4 linked regions of the Homo sapiens genome follow. The protein of the gene in region 1 purifies or fractionates together with the protein of each later gene. This does not show direct contact. Each region holds a gene or a part of one and is shown in the gene's direction. Other genes may lie near its edges. The genes, in order: GDE1, PLSCR1, UBAC2 and PROCR.

Region 1 (7,963 bases):
CTCCGAAGAAGCAACATTTGAACAGAAACCGGAATTATAAGGAGCCAGGCAGGTGCAGAAGGTCCTGAGATGGGAATAATATAGGGGTGTTCAGGTAACAGAAGAGGCAGTGTGTGGCCTGACTTCAAGGAAGAGAACAAAGACTGGTGTGTGAATGAAGTAGAAAATGGGTCAGGTCAAATAGGTTCTTGGTCAGTAATTGAGGTTAGTCTAAATAGATCACCCTTCACAAGACATACGTTTGCTTGTCTTGTAAATCACTTGAGTCATTTCCTTATCACCTTTTCCCCAGACACACACATTCGCACTCGCACAACCCTGGCAGCTGGACTCACATCAGTTTCTGCCCCCTCCTTTTCACAAGGCACTCCTGAAACTTTTGATACCTCCCAGCTCTTGGCATTCTCCTAGCTTCATAATAATGACAGCTTACAGAGAGGGCTTTTCAGTGGATTAGGCACTTTTGCATCTGTGTAAATATATCTGATTCTCTTCTTTTTTATTTTTCTCTCTCTTCTTCCTTCCTTCTTCTTCTTTTTTTTTTTTTTACTTTACAGAGTCTCACTCTTTTACCCAGGCTGGAGGGCAGTGGTGCAATCTCCACGCACTGCAACCCCTGCCTCCCGTGTTCAAGCGATTCTCGTGCCTCAGCCTCCGGAGTAGCTGGGATTACAGGCGTGTGCCACCACGCCCAGCTAATTTTTGTATTTTTAGTAGAGATGGGGTTCTGCTATGTTGGCCAGACTGGTCTCAAACTCCTGGCCTCAAAGTGATCCACCCGCCTCGGCCTCCCAAGGTACTAGGATTACAGGCATGAGCCATCATGCCTGGCCTCCCTCATTTCCTTTTTTTTTCTTTTTTTTTTTCTTTTTTTTTAAACGAAGTCTCACTGTCTCCCAGGCTACAGTGCATCGGCGCAACCCCAGCTCACTGCAACCTCTGTATCCCAGGTTCAAGTGATTCTACTGCCTCAACCTCCCGAGTAGCTGCGATTACAGGCATGAGCCACCGTGCCCGGCCAAGATTTATACTTTTAAAGCTGCACTCTGGCCCATGTGGAGAATGTACTGTGGGTGTAATTTCATTCCTTTGCCACTGTTTATAGTAGTGTATCTGTTTTTGGAATACACTCAACTCACATTTATCAAGTTTTTCCTTCTATATCTCATTTATAATCTACCAGAAATTCTAGCACTGTCAGAAATGTATATATGTATGTATACATTCGACTTTACCAATAATTTTATTTATTTATTTATTTTTGAGACAGGGTCTCTCTCTGTCACCCAGGTTTGAGTGCAGTGGGGCGATCTCAACTCACTGCAACTTCCACCTCCCAGGTTGAAGCGATTCTTGTGCCTCAGGCTCCCAAGTAGCTAAGATTACAGATGTACTCCTCCACTCCCAGCTAATTTTTGTTTTTTGTTTTTAGTAGAGATGGTGTTTTGCCATGTTGGCAAGGCTGGTCTCAAACTCCTGACCTCAAGTGATCCACCTGCCTCAGTGGATTACAGAGTGCTGGGATTACAGGCAAAGTGCTGGGATCACAGGCATGAGCCACTGCCTGGCCAGCTTTACCAGTACTTCTATGTTATTCCAGTAATTGAGATAAAAAGATGAATCCCTGGTTCTAATTCACATATTAGTATATATAGGAGATATTGCAAGTTCAGTTCCAGACCTGAGTAAATAGTCAATAAAGCAAATATAGTAATAAAGGGAGTCACAAATTTTTTGGTTTCCCAGTGCATATAAAAGTTATGTTTACACTATATTGTAATCTATTAAGTATTGTGTATGTATATATATATATATATATATATATGCACATACACACACATATATAGGTTTTCATCCATGGTTCCTGGCTCATAACTCTCAGCCCTTGCTACAGTATTTTGTTAGGCATCCTAGGCCTTAGGAGCAGGCCTTGGGAAACAGAATCTCTCCTGCCCTCCTTTCACCTACCCCAAGGCAGGACTGGAATCTTTCCCTGTCTTTCAAATTGTGAGTCTTAAGACCCTCCTCAGAGAGGGACCCCACCCTATACCCTGGGGGAAGGAATGCTGACATCATGAAGCTTCCATAAAAACCTAAGAGGAATTAAAAAAATAAAAACTAAAATAAACCTAAGAGGACTTGAAGCCAATTGGTCAGAAGTTCCATAGGCCCCAGCTTGCTATTTGTGTCTGGAGGAGGGTGGGGTGCAGTCTTGGGGACCAAGCCCTCAACCTATGATCTGACACTATCTCCAGGTAGATAGTGTCAAAATTGAGTTGGAGGATACCCAGCTGGTGTCCACTACTTATTGGTGGGGAAAAACCCCCACATTTTTGGTCACAGACGTCGGGGTTGATTGTTGTGAGAGCAGAGGGAAAATGTGATGTGTTTTTCCAAAATAGTCGTACATCTGTATCACATGGGAAAAGGAAAAGATTTAAATAAAGCAGAAAAATCTCCACCCATAAAGGACGTTATTGATAAATTTGACTATATTACCTTTAAAGATGTGTTTAAAAGGACATAATAAATAACAATGGCTAACATTTATTGAAATCTTAACTATTCACTAGCACAGTGCTCTGTGTTGTTTATGGGTACTTAAATAAAAACCGGTAAGGGAGTGACATGAGAATGATATACACCAACTTTAAGATGGTAATTACCTCTGGAGAGGAAAGGAGGAGAATGAAAGGGAGAATTTCAGCTGTATCTGTAGTGTTGATAGTAAAACTGAAGCGGATAAGAGTGCAACTTCTACTGCATCCTAGCTTGTGCAGCCCTGGGCAAGTTTCCTACTCTTTCTTTGTCTCAGTTTTCTTATCTGTTAAATGAGAATATTAATAGTACCTGCTTCAGGGTTGTGAGGATCAAATAAGTTAATACATTTAAAGCACTTAGAAGAGTGCCTGGCAAGTAGAAAAGGCTCAATAAATAATAGTTTTTGTTTTTGTTTTTGTTTTAGTACAGAAAGAGACTGAGGAAATTAGGTCAAAATATTCACATATGTTAAATCTTTTTTACTGTAGATGTTTGCAATAGACCATGACTTAAAATATTTTTTAAAAAATTAAAAATCTTGATCATAGCTGGGCACAGTGGCTCACACCTGTAATCCCAGCACTTTGGGAGACTGAGGCAGGAGGATTGCTTGATCTCAGGAGTTCGAGACCAGCCTGGACAACATGGTGAAACCCCATCTCTACAAAAAATACAAAAATTAGCTGGGCATGGTGGCACGTGCCAGTAGTCCCGGCTACTTGGGAGACTGAGGTGGGAGGATGGCTTGAACCCAGGAGGCGGAGGTTTTAGTGAGCCGAGATCATGCCACTGCACTCTAGCCTGAACAACAGAGCCAGATCCTGTCTCCAAAAAAAAAAAAAAAGAAAGAAATCTTCATCGTAATGAGCATTTCACATCTTTATTGTGATGAGGAAGCCAAGGAAGCAAACATTAAATAGTGTGTCTCCAGAGGAGCATGGCTCGTGTAATTTAAGGTTCAAATTCTCTTTTTAGATAAATTCTAATCTACCTCATCAAGCTTAACAACTTATGGGCCAACAGCCAGTGCTGCTTACATAAACAAAATGTGATATGTCCTAGAAGCAGGCGTGGTGTCTTTGTGGTAGAGGGTGGAATTAAACCAACAAAAACCTGACTCATTTATGCCAAAGTAGTGAAATATCTGACTAATCAACAACCGTAGGGTGATCATCAGAACTGCTGTACCAACAAATAGTGTAGGTAAACAGTGGAATTGTCTAAGTATTCATAAGCCATTGATGACCCATATAGTTAAACATCCAGAGAAAACATAAGTTCCTGAAGTCTCCTAGTCTTCCACTGTGAAAGTAAGAAGAGTGGGAAAATTAAAGTTTTTAAGGAATCCATCAGTTAGGAATTGAAGTAAGGTTATATACACAGAAAACAGAAACAGATCAGGATTGCTGTTTGGTGGGGGAAGTGGAAGGAAAATGAATCAAAAAGGACAGCTGTCTTAGGAGCCCTGCTGGTCTTTTGGGTGGTTAGATGCAAAATAATGTTTGTGGCCATTTGACAGTAATATTCTTGATGTTTTTGTTAAGGCAGCTAAGAATGGAGCAACAGGCGTGGAGTTGGACATTGAGTTTACTTCTGACGGGATTCCTGTCTTAATGCACGATAACACAGTAGATAGGACGACTGATGGGACTGGGCGATTGTGTGATTTGACATTTGAACAAATTAGGAAGCTGAATCCTGCAGCAAACCACAGACTCAGGTAAGTAGTTTATTGTCACTTAAACAGATCTTTTAGCTTTTATTGGAAATGACAGACACTGGTGCCTTCTAATTACATCTGCCCCAGGAGAGTTGTCTTGTTTTGTTTTGAACTGTACGTAGGTCTTGTAAGTAATGAGCAAGTGCCAGGAACAACAGAAATTTGGCATTATGTTTTTAATCTTTCCCACTGAGGCTAAATTTGGCTTCAGAATTATTGTCAAGATAATACTGTCTAGTCATAGAATCATGAGGCTGAAAGTCATTGCTTGGCAATCTTCTTGCCTTCAGGTGTACCAAGAAGCAAATTATACATTCATTAAAAGCTTCAAGTAACATTATAATATCACATTTTAACTTAACCCATTTAATTCTTCTGATCCTCATAACAAACTTCTGAGGAATCACAGAATTGTAGGAATAGAGAGTATCCTAGAAATCATCTAGAATAGCACTTTGCAGTAGAACTTTCTGCAATGATGGAAATATTTTATATCTGCACTGTGTAATATGGTAGGTACTTGTGGCTATTGAGCACTTGATATGTGGCTAGTGACACGAGGAAGTGAATTTTTAATTTAAATGTAAATTTAAACTGAAATAGCCATGTGTGGCTACCATATAGGATACTACAGATCTAGATCAATCTTGCCTTTAGATATAATCCCAGAAAAGTTAAATTATTTACTCAAGGGCAAATAACTAGTTCATAAAGAAGCCAAAACTAGAATCTATCCCAAGTTTTAGTCCAAATCATGCTGTTTTTAGCTGCCCCCAATGTCTTTCAACCCTGTAAGAGCAAAAGTTCTTTCAGTGTCTAATTTAATTCCTTCCTGGTAGAGTGTAAACGTAGCTTCCAAAGTATATACACTAGAGCTAATCTTACAAGATGTTCTGCAAAAACAGGGTTCAAGTAAGATCAAACAGTGTATTCTGAATACTTCTGTTGTGGATAAACAGTCCACATCAGCTGATTCTTACTTGTAACTTAGCTTTTCTCAAACTTACATGATCACAGAACCTACATCCTCTTCCCCACTTACAGCGGTAAACACCCTTGGAATTGGTATGCTGAGTAATATACTGTACTTTGGAATGTGGTTATTTAAATCCCTCTCTGCTTGTCATCTTTGCAGTACTGAAAAGGGTGTGCTCACTGGTTATTCATGTAATATCAATTATCCAGACAATGATCGATTCTCTTGGAAAATTAAGTATTTGACCCAACAGTTAAGTTATACTTTTTCCTAAAAGATGATCCAGACCTGTTTTCCTAGGATCTGAAAAACATTAGTCTGCCGAAGGAAGTCATACTGTAGGCAGGAAAGAATATTGGTAACACTTGAGAATTATGAGTCCAAGTTGCTAGAATTGTTCTTGAGTGTCATCAGATACTGTATTGCTCTGCTTATGCAAGGGAAAGGCTGGTTTGAATATTATAATGACATTGCAGCTAATAAAATGTCAGGTTCAAAGTTAATACTTAAAGCAAAAATGTTTAGGGTCATCATTACCCTTAAAAATCCTTTAAGGGAGCACTGAGTCCATTTCTCTGGAATTTGTGCATCCTAGGAAAAAAAATTGTGATTTTCAAAAAATCCCTTAAGAAGACAGCAAAGGCAACATATTATCTCAGTGTCTTTAACACAACCAGTCTTTGCTCCACTATTGGAACAGAGTGTGTTCTATGATTGAAAACTAAATGAAGTAATTGGCTTGTGTTTACGGATTATGTTGTGGGAAAAAATAGATATTTTCTCTAGAATTATGCTCAGTGTGATGAGATGCTTGTCCTGAGAGGAGGATAAGGAGGAAACTAAGATCAGCCAAAGGAATAACAAATTCAGGTCTCCCATCTTTCACTCTCAGGGAATAGAAATTGATTAGAATGGCTGGGATAATTGCCTGTAATGTTTAAATTATCCTTATCTTTTTTTTTTTTTTTTTTGAGTTGGAGTTTCACTCTTGTTGCCCAGTTTGGAGTGCAATGGCATGATCTTGGCTCACTGCAACCTCCACCTCCCGGGTTCAAGTGATTCTCCTGCCTCAGCCTCCAGAATGCTGGGATTACAGGCACATGCCACCACACCCAGCTAATTTTTGCATTTTTAGTAGAAACGGGGTTTCGCCATGTTGGCCAGGCTGGTCTCGAACTCCTGACCTCAGGTGATCTGCCTGCCTCAGCTTCCCAAAGTGCTGAATTTACAGGCATGAGCCCACTGTACCTGGCCTATCCTTACCCTTTTTTAAAAGCATGATCTTACAGTTGAAATAATGCAGTTGAATTAGCATTAAGTTAAATAATAATTTTATTATGAGAGAAAAGCTAATTTCTTTTGTATCAAGCACTTAGTTTTCATTTTCTTTATCAGAAAATTATGTCTTAGAACATTATTTATTTTAAACAGTTGCACTTAAATAAATACACAATACAGTTAACAGATTTATGTATTCCTAAGAATTCCTCCTGCATAGCATTCTATTAGGGAAATTACAATCTGAAAATTAAGTCTTTGAGTTTTCCAAAGGTGGCATATACTCTGCCCTTTGGGAAGTAGGGTTATTAATAATGTTATTAATTCAATAGAAATTCAGTGATTTCTTAAAAATTAAATGATTTTTGTTGTTGTTGCTGGTCTTTGGTCAAGAATATCTGTATTTGAACACATGGAGGTTCCTGAATGATGGAGCACTCAGAAAGGGCATGGAAGCTCTATGCCCCTTTCCCCATACCTCACCCTATGCATGTCTTCATCTGTATGCTGTGTAACATACTTTATAATAAACCTGTAAACGTGTTTGAGTTCCGCAAGCCACTCTAACAAATTAATTGAACCCAAGGAGGAGGAGGTGGGAACCCCAATTTATAGCTAGTGTCAGAAGCACAGAATTACCAGAAAAGGAAAACAAATCAAAACAAAACAAAACAAAAAACAGAAAAATAACATCCATTATACAATATAAGAAACCAAAGACCATCAATCTCTAATCTCTGTGCTCAGGTGTCTGTGTGCTTCAATTCTTCTCATCTACGAGTCTTGGGTTTTCAATGCTCACTTGTCACCAGGATATGAATTAAAAATGTCTTGGGCACCACCATGTGGTCCAGTTGTCTTAACCTTTCTAAAAGTGCTTGTGCAAACCATTTACTTGTTGCTTCTTACACAATTACAGCCCAACCTACTTGTGTTTAAAAGCAACCACAGCATGTTTGAAAGTCTTATGCAATAAAAGGGAAGTTTATGATTACATTTAGTCTGTACTTACTGGATACTTTCAGTTTTATCAGTTCCAAGTACAGCAAACTCTGGATAATATGGTTAATTACTTCCTCCATGATTCTTTCGACCTTCATATCAATTTTGCTAAATATGGAATGATTGACTAGCCAGAGCAATCAGGAAAGAGAAAGAAATAAAAGGCATCCAAATTGGAAAAAGAGGAAGTCAGATTGTACCTCTTTGCTGACAACATGATTTTGTATGTAGAAAAACCTAAAGACTTCACCAAAAAACTGTTAAAACTGATAAACAAATTTAGTAAAATTGCAGGATATAAAATCAACGTACAAAAATCAGTAGCATGTCTATACGTAAATAATGAACTAGCTGTAAAAGAAATCAAGAAAGTAATCCCATTTACATAGCTACCAAAAAAAAAATAACAAAATACCTAGGAATAAATATAACCAAAGAGGTGAAAG
Region 2 (7,963 bases), on another chromosome or scaffold:
ACAGATTTCCCCTTCTCCACATTTTTACCATTATTTGTTATTTTTTGTCTTTTTGATAAAAATTCTTAACTGTACAAAGATAATATCTCATTGTGGTTTGGATTTCATTTCCCTGGTGATTAGTGATGTTGAGCATTTTTTCATAAACTTACTGGCCATTTTGTATCAATTTTCTTTTCTTTTTTTTTTCTTTCTTTTTTTTTTTTTTTTTTTTTGAGATGGAGTCTCACGCTTGTTGCCCAGGCTGGAGTGCAGTAGCGCGATCTCGGCTCACTGCAACATCTGCCGCCTGGGTTCAGGCGATTCTCCTGCCTGAGCCTCCCAAGTAGCTGGGACTACAGGCACCTGCCACCACACCCAGCTCATTTTTTGTATTTTTAGTAGAGACAGGGTTTCACCATGTCAGCCAGGATGGTCTCGATCTCCTGACCTCGTGATCTGCCCACTTTGGCCTCCCAAAGTGCTGGGATTACAGGCATGAGCCACCTCAATTGTCTAATTTTTAAAGGTACTCCAGTATAAATCAATTTTATTTGACCTAAATTTTTCCACATTAATAATGAACACAATAAATATTTTATTAATTAAAAATATTAACTTCAGTTTTACACTAAAAAGTAATATAAGCTGTTAAATATTGATAATTGGTTACATGTACTTTAAAAATATAAATACATGAATTTTAATTTGGTTAGCTTATAAAAACCTTCATTTGACATATACATACCACTTATTTTTTTTCCTGCTATAGATAGATCAGATACTGATTCATCAGCAAATTGAACTTCTGGAAGGTATGTATTCATTGTTTTAATCCTGTTTCTATAAAGAGTAGAAGTTTATGCAGATAAAGGCACATTGACCTCCACAAATATAACACTCTCACTTATATAGGACAGTTAAACCAGTTATTTACAATAATAAATGTTATCAGCAATTCATTTCTAAAATTTAGGAATCAAAAGGTAAAATGCTGTTATGTTGGGCACCTGCCCTCGGGATATTGACACTAACTTAGAAGGAAAATAATCAAAACCCTTATTTTGCTCCTCTCTTCATACATCACTTTTTTTCTGACTTCTACCACTTAAGCTATTTTCTCCGTAATTGTGATCAGCTTAAGAATGGCACAGAGCCACATTCCAAAGTAAGTTATCTTTTTTATTTGGATGAGGAAGTTTGGGAAAATTATCATTTGTGCCCACAGTTTCTCTTGGGAGTTAAGATGAACCCTATAAAACCTTTGTATACGAGGTCAGATGCAGGCCACTGCAGTGTGGGAGGATGCTGACCAACTAGCCTGCAGGCTTGGCTTCATAGAAGAGCACTCCTGCTCCTGCTGAATGGCCTGACATTTCCTTGGGTCCAGGGCTCCTTAGGTGCAAAAATAAACCTAGGAAGCCAATTAATGTTTTATAATGGCTGCCAGGGGAAGAAGACCCTGGATAGATTTATGAACCATAGTGTTTTCCTTCTAGATAAAAAAGGTTTAATAAAAAATAAAACTCTCCAGTTTTTAGGAATATGTCTGCTAAATTCATTTTCACCTGTCTCCAAAGTTTCTTTCCACTGGTAAAAATTAGAAGATGAATTGTATAAGCAGAATAATGGATTTGGCTAAAATATACAATTGTCATCTATTACATTGAAGTTATTTGTAAAGCACATTATTATTTATAAGTTACTTGATTTTTTTTTTAGTGTATCTAAACAAAGCTTTCTCTGGAAGACAGCTTTGTATTCTGAATTTTTTAATGTTTTATAGTATATATTAGTAAGGCTATAAAATCCAAACAGACATATAACCAAACATTACACAGCACACTATTTATCTTTTTTTGTAGATTTATAGGCTTTATAAATATTTGTTAAATATGTGTTAATTATGAAATAGAAAGTTCCAAATCTAACAGTTTTTAATTATGCTTATTTTTCAAAAAAGAAATGTCTCCAGTTTTTTTTTTGTTTCTTTTTCTCCAAAATTGAAAGTCTATGTTATTTTTTCATGAGTGGTATAAAAAAGATGAAGATTACTCAGGTTTTTAGAATCTGAGCATAAACTAGGCACTTACTTTTTTTTCTCAATTCAAAACACAGAAGACAATAAAAATATAAACAATTTGTTTACATTTTTAAAGTAAATGAAAAGAAACTTAAAGGTTATGTAAACCAATGTTGTTTTACAAATAAGCTGGAGATTTTTGAGATTAAGCTACTTAATGTAACAATTAATTAGATAATGAATGTCCTCTCAAAATCAGCTTAACTTTTTTCTCATCAAACATTTGACTATTTCAGATGTTGAAATCAGACGTTGTTCCTATAAATGCAGAGTACAGGGTCTGTCTGTGTCCCACCAAGGACACTTAAAGGAGTTCATGGTGGTAAGACTTGTGAAGGCCGTCTTTATCCGACTCAGAGTCTTTCCACATAGGCATTATAGAGTGACTTTTCCTCCATATATTTATTTTAATCACTCATTATTTTAGCCAGGCTTCTGACATCTATGACCCCAGTTACTGAGGACTATGTACAAATGGGACAGTTATTGCTCCTTTCTGGCTTTAAATATGGAGAGGTTTCCAATGTATGGTTAGATATGGAAAGCCCTTGATACAAAGTATGTGAGTGTCAGCATTTTGCAGCCATCTGTTTCCCTCATGAAGATAGATTAGCCCAGCAAAGGTGCAGAGTTCACTTAGGATTCCCACGGTCTAGATATTCTGTGAGTTGAAGCCTTGGTTGCCGAACACGTTTGTCTAATACCCACCTCCCACTTCTGAACAACTACTGTTGAGTTGAATAAGGATGCCCTGGGTCCAATGTGACATTCTAATTCATCTTTCATTTTTACTCCCTCGGTTTTTATGCGTGTACATTGCCTTCTTTCAAAAGCATTGCAAAAAAATAAGACATAAGTAAGGTTTATAAGACAGTCTCAAACCAATTGATTTAATATAAAATTTCATAGCACATAAACAGCAATCCTCTTATATTCCCCTCCACATTACACATAAACTATCCTGCATTAGTGGACATTTTATCTATACACCTAGCACCACCGTGCCCACCCACAGCATTGCCCCAACTCTCAGCAGAAAAGTCTCTCTTCTGACAGACATTTATGGAATTAGGAAAATATAACTTGTTTCCAGTGTCTCACATAATGAAGGGATGGGTTGCCCCTCCACACTTGTGGGTGTTTCTTGTTAGGCGGAACGAGAGACTTGGAAAAGAAAAGACACAGAGACAAAGTATAGAGAAAGAAAAATGGGCCCAGGGGACTGGCATTCAGCATACGGAGGACCCGCGCCAGCACCGGCCTCTGAGTTCCCTTAGTATTTATTGATCATTATCGGGCGTTTCCCGGAGAGGGGGATGTGGCAGGACAATAGGATAATAGTGGGGAGAAGGTCAGCATGTAAACACGTGAACAAATGTCTCTGCATCATAAAAAGGTAAAGAAAAAGGTGCTGTGCTTTTGATGTGCATATACATAAACATCTCAATGCCTTAAAGAGCAGTATTGCTGCCAGCACGTCCCACCTCCAGCCCTAAGGCAGTTTTCCCCTATCTCAGTAGATGGAATATACAATTGGGCTTTACACCTAGACGTTCCATTGCCCAGGGACGAGCAGGAGACAGATACCTTCCTCTTATCTCAACTGCAAAGACGCGTTCCTTCCTCTTTTACTAATCCCCCTCAGTGCAGACCCTTTACGGGTGTCGGACTGGTGGACGGTCAGGTCTTTCCCTTCCCAGGAGGCCATATTTCAGACTATCACATGGGGAGAAACCTTGGACAATACCTGGCTTTCCTAGGCAGAGGTCCCTGTGGCCTTCCACAGTGTTTTGTGTCCCTGGGTACTTGAGATTAGGGAGTGGTGATGACTCTTAACAAGCATGCTGCCTTCAAGCATTTGTTTAACAAAGCACATCCTGCACAGCCCTTAATCCATTTAACCCTAAATTGACACAGCACATGTTTCAGGGAGCACAGGGTGGGGGGTAGGGTTACAGATTAACAGCATCTCAAGGCAGAAAAATTTTTCTTAGTACAGAACAAAATGGAGTCTCTTATGTCTACTTCTTTCTACACAGACATGGTAACAATCTGATCTCTCTTTTCCCCACGGCATAAGGACTTAATTTCTCTATACATTGGTAATCTCTCCTTTTTTTTGCCATTTTTCTCTGTCTGGATCATCTCTAAACATCATTTCTTCTCCTCCTTATGCCACTTGGGGTATCATCAAAAACTGGCATAGCTAGATATTATAATATCTGGATAAATTCAATATTTTTAACATAGAGGTGATTATGATTTCGTCTTTTATGTTTTTAGTTTTAACAGGTTTTGAAACTAATAACAAATATGAAATTAAGAACAGCTTTGGACAGAGGGTTTACTTTGCAGCGGAAGATACTGATTGCTGTACCCGAAATTGCTGTGGGCCATCTAGACCTTTTACCTTGAGGATTATTGATAATATGGGTCAAGAAGTCATAACTCTGGAGAGACCACTAAGATGTAGCAGCTGTTGTTGTCCCTGCTGCCTTCAGGAGGTCTGTGATCAATTACCAGGGCACTTTGTAAAATAGTTCAGCAAGAATTTCTGCCCTGTCATTGAACCTTTCATCGAACCTAGGCATTATGATTATTACATTTACATATATTATTTTGCCTTTGTAGATAGAAATCCAAGCTCCTCCTGGTGTACCAATAGGTTATGTTATTCAGACTTGGCACCCATGTCTACCAAAGTTTACAATTCAAAATGAGAAAAGAGAGGATGTACTAAAAATAAGTGGTCCATGTGTTGTGTGCAGCTGTTGTGGAGATGTTGATTTTGAGGTAAGAGATGTCATAATGTTTATAAGATTTGCTTTCCTAATATAAGAAGAATGTAATTTTGCAGGACATTATAAATGCATTAAATAAGTGTTGTGTGCCAATGTCTCAATAGCAAGATGATTTTCTCATTTATTTAACTTTGGGCAGAGTGGTAGTTATCACTCTGATTAAAGGTCACTGTTGGTCATGAGAAATGGAAAAAAAAGAAGCAGACCTATGTAGTCAAATAAAAATAAGCAAATCATCCCTCACTTAAACGTGGTGGTTTCTATGTGATGACACTGTATATTATCCATTTTAAACAGAACGTTAACCTTGCCATCTAAGTCTGATTGCCAAAGCATATGGATCCTTCTTAAATCTGAAATATCATCTGCCAATGCTCAAGGCCATGTTCAGAATGTCTGACATCTTTGAATTCCTACAAGAAGCCCAATTATGCAAAGATAGTTTTGAGAAAATTAGTATAATATGTACTACCCAGTTATGCTTCTCTGTGGTCTCTCCTTTTCCCTATATTAAATTAGGTCACTAGAAGCTGCAACATATTAATATTTGTATATTTACTGTAATACATTGTAGAATTTCATTAGAGTAGCTCTTCAACAACAGATGGTCTACTTTTACAATCCAAATTTTTTCATTGCAAATGTTTAAAAATCAGAAGGTTTTATAACTTAATCTTGATTTCTTGTTTCTCTTGGAAAATCAGAAAATTGGGTTAACTGGGCCCACCTTTCCAACAAAAGGGTAAAAATCTACTAAAGATGTGTGGGGCTGCCCCTTGTAATAATGACATGGGAACTCTACCACTGTCTCCACCCCTTACTGAGGTTTTTCAATATCCAGTGTCATTCATTTATGTGATCTGCCTGCCTTCTTTAATCACATGGTATTTTATTCCTCCGTCAGACTTTAGCTATATAAAGATGAATCCTTTCCCCCATTGACTTCATAATCTAATGACAGAGATTTGCAGTTCTAAGGAGGATGTGATATAGAAACTTTAAAAAGGCTCTTATAAGGGGATTATATAATGTGTGTATGTATATGTGTGCATAATATGCATGTATAAAAATTTTATGTAAGGGTATGCATAATAGCAGTTCTTCATGTAAGGGATGGAATCTCTGTCCTACATCCAGAGAAGTGAAAAGTAATTTCTCATTCAAGGAACAATATTAACAGAAGTTTGGCTGGCATATATTTTATTTTTAGTAAATAAATGAAAACACTGGAAAAACATTGTGTAATCCTTGTATTTGATACTAAAAAATTTATGTTTCATCTGGCAGTCTTTCTTGATGGATACCTTAAAGCATCCATTCCATGTAATAAATTAACTTTTCTTCTATTTATCTAGAATGATGATATCAAGGTACTCTCATGGAAAGAATTGAGAAATAGTCACTTGAAGAATTTTCCATAGAGTTGACAATGGAAACTTTGACACCTCAAAGCAGAAATTATCAGTATGAGGGACCACTAAGGAACATGAAATCCACCAGGGTGTCACTGGGCATGGAAACTTGAAGTAATAAAAGAGATAAAAGCCTGTTCCACAGCAGGGGCAGGAGTCATTCTAAAACAGAGAATAACTCAAGAGGCATTTCATAGGTGTACTATGTGGAACTAATTCATGGATTTGATATCAATTGAGGATGAAAAAAATTTTGGAGATAAACTTGATGTGTTATTATTCTGATATTACATTGGCCAAGTTAAGAATCTTGGAGGAAAAACACTTGATTTGTGTCCTCTTGACCATTATGATAGTCTGCTTTTTAAAAAGTAAGGTATCAAATACTAATACACATCTAGGTCAGGGATCAGCAAAATATAATCAATGAGCTGTAGTTGATTATATAAAATATATATGGGAAGTTAATGACTTGAATTAAGGTCATGTTGGATTTTAGTTATGTATAGGAAAAGAATGGAGAGTTTTCAGCAAACAGACAGTAATTGAATCTCTAAGAAGGTTATCTTAATGGTGAGTAAGAGAGAGCCTAGTAGACCTTTTATCCAATATAGGTGATAAGAGAGTCTGTCTCCTTCAAGGACTCTTGGTAGGGGGAAAAAATATGGCCACATGAAACTGACATACCAAGTCAGCTCTGTCTATGAGCTTGAAATCTGAATTCCTGCCACTGTTGTGTTTCAGGAATCTCAAAATATAGAAACTGATCCTGAGTAGTGATAAATTTTATATGGTCAACTATAGCCCACAGATTTTTTTTCCTGCCCTCTCAACTAGATTTTCATTAGTATTCAATAAATATGTTTTTAAAAAGCAGACAATCCTAATGGTCAAGAGTATAGACACTGGAGCCAGATGCCCAGGTTTGAAACCCATCTTCACAACACTTATCTATGTGACTTTAACAAATTCTTTCACTTCTCTTTGCTTTAGTTTTTTTACATGAAAATTGGGTGTAATAACAGTAAATAAATAAATCATTAGTAAGTAAATAAAATAGCTTACCAGCAACTATTAATATACTCATGATACACTTTTTATATTTCTTTGCTACATACCTAGATCCTATATGCTGTCATTATATTTCAGTATTTTGCATTTATATTTGCATTGTGAGATGAATCTATGGTTTTCTTTTTAGAATGCTTTTACCAATTAGTATTGCACTCATGGATTTGAAAGTTTAACATTATACAATACCAATTTATTATTTCCAAATGTTGACATTTTATTATAGTGATTTTCTATTCCAAAATGTCTACAATTTAGCTAAAAATTATCTAGTCCTGCTAATTTATTGGTTGAAGATCATTATTTGCATTTCTTATCCTTGCCATAAAAAATGTATTCTCTACTTTGTTAAATTTCTTGCTGTAGTAATCAAAAAGGGCAAATGTTAATATCTTTATCTGTATAGTGTTGAGTTTACGGTGGCTAGTAAGTTGTCAGCTGCATTTTTCATTTTTTTAAATTTCAGAATTAAAAAATAAAACATAAGAGTTTTCATTACTAGCTTCAAATGCTTCAATGACAGCTATTAGCAGAAAAATACTAACATGTACAAGAAAGGATTTGTATTAGTTTATTTCACCACAGTAGTATTTCATTACACATAATCCCTAAAACTC
Region 3 (7,963 bases), on another chromosome or scaffold:
GCTTCAGCCTCCTGAGTAGCTGGGACCACAGGTGTGTGCCACCACGCCCGGCTAATTTTTGTATTTTTAGTAGAGACGGGTTTTTACCATGTTGGCCAGGCTGGTCTCAAACTCCTGACCTCTTGTGATCCGCCCGCCTTGGCCTCCCAAAGTGCAGGGATGACAGGTGTGAGCCACTGCGCCCAACCTTGTAATGTTTTAAGAAAGTTTATGAATTTGTGTTGGACCACATTGAAAGCTGTCCTGGGCCACATGTGGCCCACAGGCCTCAGGTTGAACAAGCTTGCTCTAGTCCCTGTGCTTTTCTGAGTCCCACAGGACTCTCTGCAGGCATTTGGACTTATATGCTGCTTATATGCAGAGTGGTTTATAATCACTTGATAAGCTTTCTATTTTGTTAGCATGGTTCAGGATTAGTTTCTGGTTTCATGGACCTTGGAGTTTGTTTCTGTTTTCATTTTCTTTGTCTTGTACTATTTTTGAGTAAAGGGGCACAGAAATTATTTGAAACCAGAAGTTGTCCACCATTCACTCTTCAGCCTACTACAGTCTGTCTTTGGTACCAAAACTGTTCTTGTAAACACCTTGTTTATCAAACACCTCCATTTGCAACATCCAGTGGCTAGTTCTGTCTTACTTATCAGCTGCATTAGATATAGCTGACCATCCCTATTTTAAAACACTTCTTAGCTTCAGTGATAACTAAACTCTATTTCCCTTCTCTTCACTGGCAGCCCTGTCTCAGATTTCCTTACTGGCGTTTCCTACTCTGTCTGTCCATAGAATATTTGTGCACTCCTGGATTCAGTCCTTAGTCCTGTTCTCTCTTCTGCTGTGTCTCCTCCTCCCCCCCATTTTATCTCCTCTAGTCCTGTTACCCTAAATGTCATATCATATCCAGTGACTCTGAAATCCTTATCTCGACCTTTTCCTTGAGTTCTAGAATTACATAGCCACCTGCCCACTCAGTAGCCCCCCAAGATATCTAATAGACACTCCCAAGCTCGGGCTGCGCAGCATCTGCTGCTTTCTCTGCCCAAAATGTTATTTCCCCAGTTCATCAAGTCACGGGCACCGCATCATCCTTAAGATCTTCGCTCAAGTATCACTTTCTCTGAGGGCTCTCCTGATGTCCCCCGCTGCCCCCAGAGTAGGTTCGTGCCCCATGTCACTTTATTTCCTTCCCAGAACTTGCCAGAAATAGTTTTATGTGTTGACTTGATTACTGCCTGTTCTCCACATTGACTGCTATAAGCCCTGTGAGAGTGGGGCCTTGCTTATCTTGTTCTTTGCTGTATTCTAAGTTCCCAGAACAGTGCCTGGTGTGTAGCACAGTCTCAAAGAATTCTTGCCAATTCATCAATTTAAATTTTATTTTTAAACATTGAAGTATACTTTTCTCATATTAGAAAGTTGTCAAATATGTTCTAATCTGATCTTCTAATCCTAAGAATCAAATTCACATCAAGATTTTTTTTTTTTTACAAAGGAATAGCCATAGTCATTTTTAACTAGAAAATCATAGGAAGCCTTGAGACTTCTGTAACCATACATTATAAATGACCTTCAAGATGAAGACAAGGTTGGTTTATAAATGGAACTAATATTGGTGAGGATTTTAAATGTCTAGAAAAATCAGTAGTTGAAAAACTGATTAAAACACTATGTAAATAAAAACCAAGATTTTAGATTGTGTTTATTCTCTGATAAATTGATCGTGTGACTGGGTCAGCTGAGACATGGCAGTTGTTTTCTGCTGGTGTCTCTGTGATGGCCATCTGCCAACAAAGGTAACCGCAGAGTCAGTACAGTGTGAAAGTGTTTCAATAATCAGATCTTTTACGGCTTTTTAAAAAATGAAGACAGTGTCTTGACAATCTTTTACCAGAACTTTGAATACTAAATGATTAGAATTTTGCTAGCTCTTCTAATTCAATAAAAAACAATTTTGTTTTACTAAGTTCAATTTTGTGTTGATTTGCACTGCTTAGTGTTCTGCAGTGTGGTAGAGGATTTTGCTTATTGCCTAACACTGCTATGACTAAGAAAAATACCGTGTGCAGTGTCTGGAGGCTGCTGATTTTTGAGTCGTGTACATTTTTTAAAATAATACTACATTTAAACAATCACATTGGACGTTTTTCTTCTAGATGTCCGGTCTGTGCTACGACAGCAAAATGTTCCAGGTGCATCAGGTGCTCTGCATCCCCAGCTGGATGGCAAAATTCTTTTCTTGGACACTTGAACCCATCTTCTCTTCTTCAGAACCCACCAGCGAAGCCAGAATTGGGATGGGAGCCACGCTGGACATCCAGAGACAGCAGAGAATGGAGCTGCTGGACCGGCAGCTGATGTTCTCTCAGTTTGCACAAGGGAGGCGACAGAGACAGCAGCAGGTAAAAGTGATAATAATCACTAAAAATTTAGAAATTCTCAGTGGCCCAAGCAAATCTTTCCTCTGTGATTGCATGTGAGATAGAGACTACATTTTATTCCAGTGCCTTGCAAGTGGATTTTGACATTTCCAAAGAGATTGTAGGTCTCTGTTAGTGGCCATTCTTAGTTTTTTAAAAAGGTAAAAAATAAATTGCAGCTGAAAGATTGGTCAAACTGGACATTCTTGTTCCACCTATATTAGATAAGCATGACTTCTTAGAGAAACACCAACCTAGTTAACAAGATGTGCTATTTATCTGTTTTTATAATCTTGTAAAAGCCACAGTGTCTTCCTGTTAAAATGCTAATCATATGCTATGGAGTGAAGAACAAATGTAAAATTTCTTGATTTTCCTTGGTTGAAATGAAGAGAATATGAAGGCAAGAAGATTTTCAGTGGAACAACCAAGGAGTAGATAAAAAAAAATGCTGTGTTTTCTCAACCTTGCTATCAATAATCAGAAATTATTGCACATTTGTCTACAAATTCTGCATCCAAACAATCTGATACTACATTTGTCTTCCATGGGCAGTGAGAGAAGGAGGGTTAGTGCACATCAGGCTAAAACCTCAGGCCTGATCTTTCTTGGACACTTCTGTGAGCCAGCCCACAGGGCTCCCCATTTTTCGCCTCCACCTTCTTTACCCCTGGGGTAGTTGTAAACCGTACAGTTACCTCTGCCATCTCTCTGTCTTCCACTAGCATTGGATGCAAGAAGTAGGTCTGCAGATCTCACGATGGTTTGGAGAAGTGAAATCAGGTTTGAGGTCCTTAGAGTCCCATTGGAGATGCAGGTCCCAGAGTTTATATCAGGGGGGGGGAGGAAGGGGGCAGCTTATTAGGGGCAGAGTCTACAAGAGAAATAGAGAAGCAAAAGTTGTTTCTTAAAGATGTGCTTGAATTTGAGTGACTCTGGAACATGCCATAAAGATGCCCATGGTGTATTTAAAGCTGGAGGATGGACATCTCTGTCTTGGAAATGTGGAAGCTACATATATATATAGGTGATGGAGTCACCTCTGTAGGGATGAGAGCTGAGAGCCGAAAGCAAAGAAGTAGTAAGTTCTGTAAGAGAAGAGCTACATCCAAGATGAACACAGGCTACAGATGAAGCCTCGTATTTAGCAGGAGGTAAATCCTTCAAGGAAACTGAGAGAAGAGCGAAAGGTATGAGAAATCAGAATGATCAAGGTCAGAAAAACTGAGTAGTGATTGAGTATAAAGGTAGAGGCACAGAGCTTATGAGGGAGAGAAAGAAGTAGGGGATGGTTCTGATGTTTCTGGCCTAGATAATCTTAGATAGATGACTGATAGTTCCATTTCACCAATATCAAAAGAGCAGATTTGGGGGAAATATGTTGTCTGAGATACCTTTGGAATCCTGGGAGGAGATTCTCCATTGGAGAGCTTTGAATTTGTCCTCATAAGCAAACCAGAGAAGTTGCATTTCTCAGATTGGCCTCCCCAGGAAGATTTTTATACAAAGAGTTTATGAGAGAACACCGTCAGCATCAGTATCTATGGGGGCGGGCTGGCGAAGGCAGCAAGATGGGACAGAGGGAGCAGCTGCAGTTCCAGCAAAAGCCTCGCTGGTCTTATGGAGCACAGTGAAGCTGGGAGAGCCCTTCTGAGTTGTCCCAAAATGGGGACCAGTCCTGTTGGGTAAGTCCCATGCGTACGACCTCTTTGAACCTTAATTACCTCCTTAAAGTTCCTACCTTTAAATACAGTCACATCGTAGGGTTAGGGCTTCAGCGTGTGAATTTGGGGCAGGGGCAAGGGGTGGGAGACAGTGTGTTCCATAACACTGCAGAGTGGAAAGGGCCCAGCATAGTCTCGGCGCTGAGTGACTGTTCTGCTTGCAGACGGTAGTTATCAGGCACACACAGTCTCTGTGGATGCCAGGTTGGATGCTCCATAGTGGCAGGAGATAGGTCGGCCTAGGTGAGGGGGACCCACACATTCCTCTGTGCTACCACCATGGCCATCCATTCGTGTGCCAGCGCTGGGTTATCTGGTGATGGAGCCACAGTCATTCTGTCCACCTTCCATTTGGTGCCTTTTCTGTGGTGGATGCCCGTGGTGGGCACGACCTGCAAGACACTTGATGCTGTTCCTTTAGCTGGATCCTCCTTGTTCCCTCCCTTCCAGTCCCCTGACCGACCAACCAGGTGATCTGCCATGCCCAGCAGATCCACACGTGTAATTGCCTCAGGCCACTTCTCTTCACACAGAGTTGATGACCAAATGTGCTGCCCAGGCTCTGCCCATAGGGGGTTCCCCTGATCGCTGTCTTTCAAGATTGAGCCATCATGCAGCCGTTTCTTTCAGCTGCCACTCATGTCCTGAGCCAGCCTGTCCATTTGGCTGTTTTCCCCTCTGTCACTTGGTCATGAGGGGCCCACCAGCTGTGGTAGTCGGTGTTAGCTGGGAAGAGGCTGTGGTGCAGCAGAGGTGGCTGCCAGGGTGGTCTGGCATGCCTGCTTCTGCAGCTCACCCATGCCCTGCAGCCCCACCTATGCTGAGCCCAGATGCCCGTGTCCATCTGATGATGGGTTTCTGTCGGCCCACCTGGCTTGGTAACTTGGTGGGTCTCCACTGCTGACCACATGCTCACTTTGTGGCCTACAGACAGGCACTTCATGGTGCAGCAGCAGTTTATGCAAGTGGGATTCTTGGCTGTTTGCGCACGCCCTCGCTCCAGGATTCTACGGACCCCCATTGTGGTTCTCCTTTCCTGCCTTGCTGTAAACTCCGCACGGTGTCTTTCCCCCCAGATACTTGGAACATCACGGGATCTGCCAGGTTGTACCCAGGCCTCAGGGAATGAGACAGACCCAAACCCCTGCCCTGCTGGAGCGTGCATTCCCACCAGGCGCCTGTGAAGTGGCACAGGCCTTTATGGCTGTCTACACTGCTGTCAGACTCCTCCACTTTCATAGGATGGTCTCACTAACAGATCTGAAGTCCAGAGCAGGACACCAGCCCCTGGGCTCTTGCTGGGCTTTTACGTTGAGTGGTCTGCTGGGCAGCACAGACCAGACTCTTGATTTTTTCCTAAGCTTCCTAAGTTCTCTTCTAGGGTCCGCACATGGGTACACCCAAACCTGAGCACTTAGCCTCCTGCTGAACTTCTTCACTCAGCTGTGTCTCAGTTTTCTTCACATAAGTATGATAAATCACCACGTAGAGAACTCTTTTGTTAAACCACCACTGGAAATTATCTGCCGTATTTGTGTGCATGCACGAGTACCGTACAGGGTGCAGTTGTATTGGAATGTAATACCAGGAGAAAAGTTTATTTTCATTTACTTTTCAACAAATAAGTACTTAGTGCTTATTATATGGTAGGCCTAGAGCTGGACATTGAGGACACAGGTGTAAAAAAGATAGCCCCCAGTCCTTTTTCTTATGGAGCTTAGGTCCTGTCTCTCTTGCAGAATTAGCATGTTTCACTCTTTATCAGTAAGAAGACCACCACCATTTATTTTGCCAGTCCTATAGTAAGTACTCAGTATATGTTATCTCATTTATGCCCGGTGTACGCCTAGAGAGATGCAGGTATTCCCTCATGACCCCGGAGGCTCAGGGGAGTGCTTGCTTGTCCAGGGGCATGCAGCTGTTGATGGGGATCTGGGAGTGAGACCCAGCTGTGTCTGACTCTGAGGTCTCTGTTTCTGATCCCTAACTCATATACCTCCCAATATGAGAGCTCCTTGGTGATTTGTTTTCCCCCTTTTCACTTTGGCTGGCAGGAAACTCAGTGCCAGGCTTCAGGTTTAATTAGGGTTAAGTTAGAACTTTTGCTTCCATCTTCTTCTTTATGTTTCAAATACATGTTTTTGTTGTTTGCTCCTGTATCTTTTATTGTAGGCAATCTCATGCTGTGTATTTCATTTAAAATACAACTGTTATTTATTTAAAAACTTGATTTTTAGATGCTTTTCATAGAATCTGAGTTTATTTAGTCAGAAAGTCATTTTTTTTCAGTTACTAACTGCTGTATGTTACACATGATCTGTCTGCAGTTTTTCATTTCAGGTATTCCAAAATAACACTCAAGTCTTGATTCAGTGTTGTATTTCTTTAGATTTCTCTTGCCTGCTTATGCCAGAGTTCATCCTGCCATCTGGCAGGTGCTCGCTGCCACCCCCTGCCACGTGCTCCTCGTGTGGCTCTGGGGGCACAGTTAGACAGTTAGACTGCTTGGGAAGCTCTCTGACCAATACTGGTGGCTTCGCTGTGGGCACAAAATAAATGAAGAACATGTCCTTTCCCTCCGTGAGTTTGTGGCCAACTTCAGGGAGCTCAGGCAGTTGTAGTTGAAATAGATGAGCATCCAAGAAACAAGGAAATATTTACTGAAGCACCCATGCAGTGAAAATCTGAGGAGAGAGCCACTGGTGTGGACTGATGCTGCCAAAAAAGATTTCAGGAAGTAGAAGGACGGGTGGAATTTGGATGGGTGGAGAGGGTAAGGCACATCATTCCAGAGGAGAGGACCAGCAAGAGTGAGGCATGGAGGTGCTAATGAGACCTTAAAAAGGAGAGACCTCCAGGAGCCCTGTGATTGACATGTGGGCAGATATGTAGTGAGAAATGGGAAATGATATAGTAACTGATAATGGAGGGAGGTAGTTTAAGCCTGACAATAGATTTCGGCTTGGACATTGGCTGTGAAAAATTGTTTATTCAGTAACAAAGATAGGACAGTTATCTCAGAAAAATGTCATTTTATTGCACAGTGTAAGATGGACGGGGGAAAGGAGAAACCACAGAGGAGGAGACAAATAGAAGGAGGTTTCTAAAGCCCGGCTCTCAGAGGAGTGCCTTGGCTGGGCTGATGCTGTACTCTGGATCGAGCTCTCCTTCCTCTGTTCACTCCCTAAATAGGTTGTTTCCCAAGACTCAGTTCTCTGCCTACTGAGCTTTTCACGTTAGACACCCAAGGGGACCCACCCAGCCCCTGTCCTCACCACTTTATTGAGCTCATGGCTCCCATGAGTCCCTCAAGATCTAGAGACTGGACCTCCCTCTCTCCTGGGGCTCCAGACCGAAATATCCTACTGCCTATAGTACATCTCCACTTCACTGTCCCATCAGCTCTTGACAGGTACTGTTTCTTTTTTTCTTTCTTTTTTTTTTTTTTTTTTTGAGACAGAGTCTTGCTCTGTTGCCCAGGCTGGAGTGCAGTGGCGTGATCTTGGCTCACTGCAACCTCTGTCTCCTGGCTTCAAGCAATTCTCCTGCCTCAGCCTCCCGAGTAGCTGGGATTACAGGCGCTCACCACCACATCCGGCTAATTTTTGTATTTTTAGTAAAGACGGGGTTTCACCATGTTGGCCAGGCTGGTCTTGAACCCCTGACCTCATGATCCACTTGCCTTGGCCTCCCAAAGTGCTGGGATTACAGGCGTGAGCCACCGCACACAGCCGACATGTACTGTTTCTTTGCTAAATTTGTTTCCCTTTCTCACTCCCTACCTGATGAAAAGCACCCATTGTTTACCCGAAAGTCCAAACCTAG
Region 4 (5,736 bases), on another chromosome or scaffold:
GGCTCAGAAGAGAAGAGAAATGGAGGGAATGGGAAGACCCTGGGAAAACTGATGGAAGAAGTGGGGGAAGAGTGGGGCAGAGAGAGGTTAGGGGAGGCTAGGGAAAATGGAAGGAGACTGGTCGCAGCTGGTGGAACTGGGGAGAAAGAGATGCTGTGCCTAATAGAACTTATGGGCGATCAGGCTACTGAAGTGGCCCTGTTTAAGCAGAAAAGGGAGTTATTACCCTCCATTATAATTGCACAGGGGCCTCCTTTCCCCTCTCTCACAATCCCCGTAACTTCAGTCTCCCCCTCAGAGAGGCAGCAAATAATAACCAGTATTCAATGAGTGCTCACTATGGTTAATACATGTATTGACCCATTTAACTTGCACAAACCCCTAAAGGTGGGTAATATTATTACTATCTCCATTTTATGAGGAGGAAACTGGGTCACAGAGTAGTTAAGGACCATGTCTAGGGTTATCCATAAATATACTTATTCACATCTGCAGATACAAAGCACAACTTCTCAAATGCAAACACAGACAGGACCCACTCACACACACAGATTTACAACCCCGGACTCATCCAAATGTGCTCTGGGCATCAACTCTGTGCCAGCCTCTTTTCTGGGTGTAGGAAGCAGAGATTACCAAGCATGGTTCCATAGCCTAGAGGAGTCCAGTGTGGCCTGTGTGTGTTTGGAGACAGCCAGGTAGTATCCCGTGAGATACACACTAATATATGGTGGTCTGGGATCACTGAAACAGACACACTGTGTCTCGTGGGGCATCAGAAAAAAATTTCCAAGAAGAGGGCAACTGAGCTGGGTCTTTTTTTCTTTGCTTTTCTTTCTTTTTTCTTTTTTTTTTTTTTTTTTTTTTTTGAGATGGAGTCTTGTGCTGTCACCCAGGCTGGAATGCAGTGGCACAATTTCAGCTAACTGTAACCTCCAACTCCCAGGTTCAGGCGATTCTCCTGCCTCAGCCTCCTGAGTAGCTGGGACTACAGGCATGTACCACCACGCCTGGCTAATATTTGTATTTTTAGTACAGATGGGGTTTCGCCATGTTGGCCAGGCTGGTCTTGAATCCCTGACCTCAAGTGATCCGCCCGCCTCGGCCTCCCAAAGTACTGGGATTACAGGCATGAGCCACCGCGCCCAGTCTCTGAGCTGGGTCTTAAATCATGAATAAACTTCGCCAGGCAGAAAAAGGGAGGCAGAGCAATCCTGACATGCTATTCATGTGTCAGCCAAAGGCAGCATGAGGAATCCCAACTAGTTTGATATATAAGCAGCGGGAAGCGGCCAGAAAAGGCAGCAGGGGCCAGGTCTCTAGCAGCCTTGAATGCCAGGCTAAAGACTCTGGACTTGATCCTGTGGGGAGGCAGTGTAGCAGAATGGCTGAGTGCTGGACTTGACTGCCTACGTGCAAACCTTGGCTCTGCTACACTATCTCTGTCTCAGTTTCCCATGTAGACTGGGGTTAATAATAGTAGCTATTGCATTAAGCCACTGGGGAAAGGCACAAAGATAATAATGTATGTAAAGCCCATTGCCCAGGTTATAATAAGCACTGAATCGACATTGGCTATGATTATTTTTGATTAATGAAGGGGAGGGGGTTATGGCACTGGAAGATTTTAAGTAGGAAAAGGACATGATCTCATCCCTGGGTCAGGTGGAGGTCGGAATAGAGAACGGGGAGATGAAGTAGAAAGTTACTACCCCAGTCTAGATGAGACGGATGAATCCTGAATCAGGGCAGTGGAAGAGGAGATGGAGAACAGGCGATGGAATTGGAATTTTATTCAGGTCAGGATTTGTTAACCATTTGTTCCGTTGGTTAACAGGAAACGGGGGGAGGGAGAGCCGAGGGTGAAAAAGGAGGCAGAAAGGAGTGTCTCTTCCACTGCAGGCCTCAGTTTCCTCATCTGTAAAACGGAGATAATAATCCCTGTCCTGTCCTCCTGGCAGAGTTACTGTCAGCGTCAAACGGGAGAAGCGGTGGGAGGGCACATTATAGTTTATGAAGGGTCGAGAAGGCGGGCGGCCAGCCTCGAGGTAGGGGGTTATTATCTTCCGCTGCCCGCCGCCCCCTCCCACGCCGGCCCAGGCTGAAGCTGACTCTGCCCGCAGGCCTCCAAAGACTTCATATGCTCCAGATCTCCTACTTCCGCGACCCCTATCACGTGTGGTACCAGGGCAACGCGTCGCTGGGGGGACACCTAACGCACGTGCTGGAAGGCCCAGACACCAACACCACGATCATTCAGCTGCAGCCCTTGCAGGAGCCCGAGAGCTGGGCGCGCACGCAGAGTGGCCTGCAGTCCTACCTGCTCCAGTTCCACGGCCTCGTGCGCCTGGTGCACCAGGAGCGGACCTTGGCCTGTGAGTAGGCGCGCAGCGGGGGCGGGGTCTGGGCGGGGCTAGTGGGGGCGGGGCCTGGCGGGTGGGGGCGGGGCCTGGCGGATGGAGGCGGGCTGGGACTTGCAGGGACCCGGCAGCCACTGGAGCTCGGTGGCGCCTGGGCCTTTGAAGATTGCTGGGTGGGGGCTGGAGAGAGGCAGTTGTCCCCGCTAAGAAAGCCCCGACTCGGGCGGTCGTCCTGCTGGCATAACCTCTTGGGATAGACCCTGTTGGAAGGCCCTGACACCGTGACGTCGAAGGTCCCCAGAAAACTCCTCACCCCTCGCCTCACAGTCCTCCAACTCCTTTTCTTCATAGATCTCCGTCCTTCCCTTCCCACAGCCCCCAGCACTTCACCCCCCACCCTCCAGCCACTTCTCATACAAGCTGATGACTTCGCTCTTAGCTCCACTCATGACCCGAACTCTTCCCCCAAAGACCCCAAGTTCTTCTCTCAAAGCCCCACTCCTTCCCCGTCACAACCCTAACTCCTTCTTCTCAAAGACCCCAATTTCTTTTCTCAAAGCACCAAGCACCACTCCGTCCCCCTTCCCCCACCATCATGGCCTTTAACTCCTTTCTCTCCTAGTCCCCCACCCCACCCCCCTTTTTTTTTTTTTTTTTTTTTTTTGAGACGGAGTCTTGCTCTGTCGTCCAGGCTGGAGTGCAGTGGCGCGATCTCGGCTCACTGCAACTTCCGCCTCCCGGGTTCAAGCGATTCTCCTGCCTCAGCCTCCCAAGCAGCTGGGACTACAGGCACCCGCCACCACGCCCGGCTAATTTTTTGTATTTTTAGTAGAGACGGGGTTTCGCCATGTTGGCCAGGCTGGTCTCGAACTCCTGACCTCAGGCGATCCACAAGCCTGGCCTCCCAAAGTGCTGGGATTACAGGCGTGAGCTGCCGCCCCTGCCCCAGCCTCACCCCCTGTTTTTTTTTTCTATTACAGTTGAACAAGGCCTGACAATTCCCTTTTTTCATCACAGTCCCTGGCCCCTTCTTTCTTAGCCTCTAACAGGCTAACCCCAAACCCCTCCTCACAGCCCCAGGCCCTTCTCCCCATAGTTCCCTGACCTAGACTCCCCTCTCCTCACAGCACTGACTCTTGCCTTCTCATGTTCTTTTCCCCTTGGTGGGCCTCGCCCCACACCTGGCACCCTCTCTGCACAGTCCCCTGACCCTGACTGTCTATCCACAGTTCCTCTGACCATCCGCTGCTTCCTGGGCTGTGAGCTGCCTCCCGAGGGCTCTAGAGCCCATGTCTTCTTCGAAGTGGCTGTGAATGGGAGCTCCTTTGTGAGTTTCCGGCCGGAGAGAGCCTTGTGGCAGGCAGACACCCAGGTCACCTCCGGAGTGGTCACCTTCACCCTGCAGCAGCTCAATGCCTACAACCGCACTCGGTATGAACTGCGGGAATTCCTGGAGGACACCTGTGTGCAGTATGTGCAGAAACATATTTCCGCGGAAAACACGAAAGGTATGATGGGACGGGGCCCAGGCCTGCAAGCTGGGGAGAGGGCGGGTTCCAGACAAATGGATGGACCTGAAGGATGGATGCCTAGAGCAACAAGAGGCCCACAGCTGGGGGTTTGGGACAGAACACACGCAGCTTCAGTCAGTTGGTAAACGGGTCCCTTTCCTCTGGGGCAGAAACGCTTTGGGGTTTGACTCAAATCATGGACTCCTTGGGGGCCTATTCTTCGGGCTAACTCTTTGCATGTTCTGCAGGGAGCCAAACAAGCCGCTCCTACACTTCGCTGGTCCTGGGCGTCCTGGTGGGCAGTTTCATCATTGCTGGTGTGGCTGTAGGCATCTTCCTGTGCACAGGTGGACGGCGATGTTAATTACTCTCCAGCCCCCTCAGAAGGGGCTGGATTGATGGAGGCTGGCAAGGGAAAGTTTCAGCTCACTGTGAAGCCAGACTCCCCAACTGAAACACCAGAAGGTTTGGAGTGACAGCTCCTTTCTTCTCCCACATCTGCCCACTGAAGATTTGAGGGAGGGGAGATGGAGAGGAGAGGTGGACAAAGTACTTGGTTTGCTAAGAACCTAAGAACGTGTATGCTTTGCTGAATTAGTCTGATAAGTGAATGTTTATCTATCTTTGTGGAAAACAGATAATGGAGTTGGGGCAGGAAGCCTATGGCCCATCCTCCAAAGACAGACAGAATCACCTGAGGCGTTCAAAAGATATAACCAAATAAACAAGTCATCCACAATCAAAATACAACATTCAATACTTCCAGGTGTGTCAGACTTGGGATGGGACGCTGATATAATAGGGTAGAAAGAAGTAACACGAAGAAGTGGTGGAAATGTAAAATCCAAGTCATATGGCAGTGATCAATTATTAATCAATTAATAATATTAATAAATTTCTTATATTTAAGGCATTGTTATCTCCTCCACTTTGCAAAATTTCTGGAAAAGTAACCTATACCCATTTCTTCTGCTTCCTTATTTCTCACTCATTCTTTTTTTTTTTTTTTTTTTTTTTGAGACAGAGTCTTGCTCTGTTGCCTAGGCTGGAGTGCAATGGTGTGATCTCAGCTCACTGCAACCTCTGCCTCCCGGTTCAAGCAATTCTCCTGCCTCAGCCTCCCAAGCAGCTGGGATTACAGATGCATGCCACCACACCCAGCTAATTTTTGTATTTTTAGTAGAGATGGGGTTTCACCACGTTGGCCATCCTGACCTCGTGATCCGCCTACCTCGGCCTCCCCAAGTGCTGGGATTAGACGTGAGCCACTGCGCCTGGTCTTCTCACTCATTCTTAGACCCAGTGCAATCTGACTTCTCTATAAACTACTCTGAGATCACCAGTAACCTCTAATTGTCAAACCATCACCCTACATGGTATCTGCAAATTTGCGGACTAGAACTCTCTTTTTGCCTTAACTTCTGAGATACCATACTTCAATTTTTAAAACTGTTCTGTCTACTTTTTTTCAATCCCTTTGACTATGTCATCTTACACGATTCACCCTGGAAATGCTGGCTTCCTTAGAATTCCATTTTTTGGTTCCTTTTGTTCCTGTTTGAACTATACCCTTTCTAGGTGACCTACTGACCTTCATGGCTGCAAATACTATCTACCTGTGGTTTCCATGGAGAAGCAATATAATTTTATCTTTAAGAGCATGTGTTTTGTCGGCCAGGCGCGGTGGCTCACGCCTGTAATCCCAGCACTTTGGGAGGCCGAGGCGAGAGGATCACTTGAGGTCAGGAGTTCAAGACAAGCCTGGCCAACACAGTGAAACCCTATCTCTACTAAAAATACAAAAATTAGCTAAGTTTGGTGGCACGCGCCTGTAATCCCAGCTACTTGGGAGGCTGAGGCAGGAG

The links.
Region 2: the proteins of GDE1 (region 1) and PLSCR1 purify together in Homo sapiens (affinity purification with mass spectrometry; 2 studies listed by BioGRID and IntAct, with this or other methods). This does not show direct contact.
Region 3: the proteins of GDE1 (region 1) and UBAC2 purify together in Homo sapiens (affinity purification with mass spectrometry; one large-scale study listed by BioGRID and IntAct). This does not show direct contact.
Region 4: the proteins of GDE1 (region 1) and PROCR purify together in Homo sapiens (affinity purification with mass spectrometry, with the first as the bait; one large-scale study listed by BioGRID). This does not show direct contact.

What each region holds. Positions count from the first base shown.
Region 1 is NC_000016.10:19,513,312-19,521,274, reverse strand, and holds part of GDE1 (glycerophosphodiester phosphodiesterase 1), read left to right. Parts: intron 1-4,085; coding exon 4,086-4,261; intron 4,262-7,963. UniProt on the Homo sapiens protein: Hydrolyzes the phosphodiester bond of glycerophosphodiesters such as glycerophosphoinositol (GroPIns) and glycerophosphoethanolamine (GroPEth), to yield a glycerol phosphate and an alcohol.
Region 2 is NC_000003.12:146,518,436-146,526,398, reverse strand, and holds part of PLSCR1 (phospholipid scramblase 1), read left to right. Parts: intron 1-751; coding exon 752-794; intron 795-4,345; coding exon 4,346-4,566; intron 4,567-4,693; coding exon 4,694-4,855; intron 4,856-7,963. UniProt on the Homo sapiens protein: Catalyzes calcium-induced ATP-independent rapid bidirectional and non-specific movement of phospholipids (lipid scrambling or lipid flip-flop) between the inner and outer leaflet of the plasma membrane resulting in collapse of the phospholipid asymmetry which leads to phosphatidylserine externalization on the cell surface.
Region 3 is NC_000013.11:99,338,170-99,346,132, forward strand, and holds part of UBAC2 (ubiquitin-associated domain-containing protein 2 isoform 1 precursor), read left to right. Parts: intron 1-2,150; coding exon 2,151-2,396; intron 2,397-7,963. UniProt on the Homo sapiens protein: Restricts trafficking of FAF2 from the endoplasmic reticulum to lipid droplets.
Region 4 is NC_000020.11:35,172,579-35,178,314, forward strand, and holds the end of PROCR (endothelial protein C receptor precursor), read left to right. Parts: intron 1-2,123; coding exon 2,124-2,375; intron 2,376-3,589; coding exon 3,590-3,868; intron 3,869-4,119; coding exon 4,120-4,235; 3' UTR 4,236-4,784; downstream 4,785-5,736. UniProt on the Homo sapiens protein: Binds activated protein C. Enhances protein C activation by the thrombin-thrombomodulin complex; plays a role in the protein C pathway controlling blood coagulation.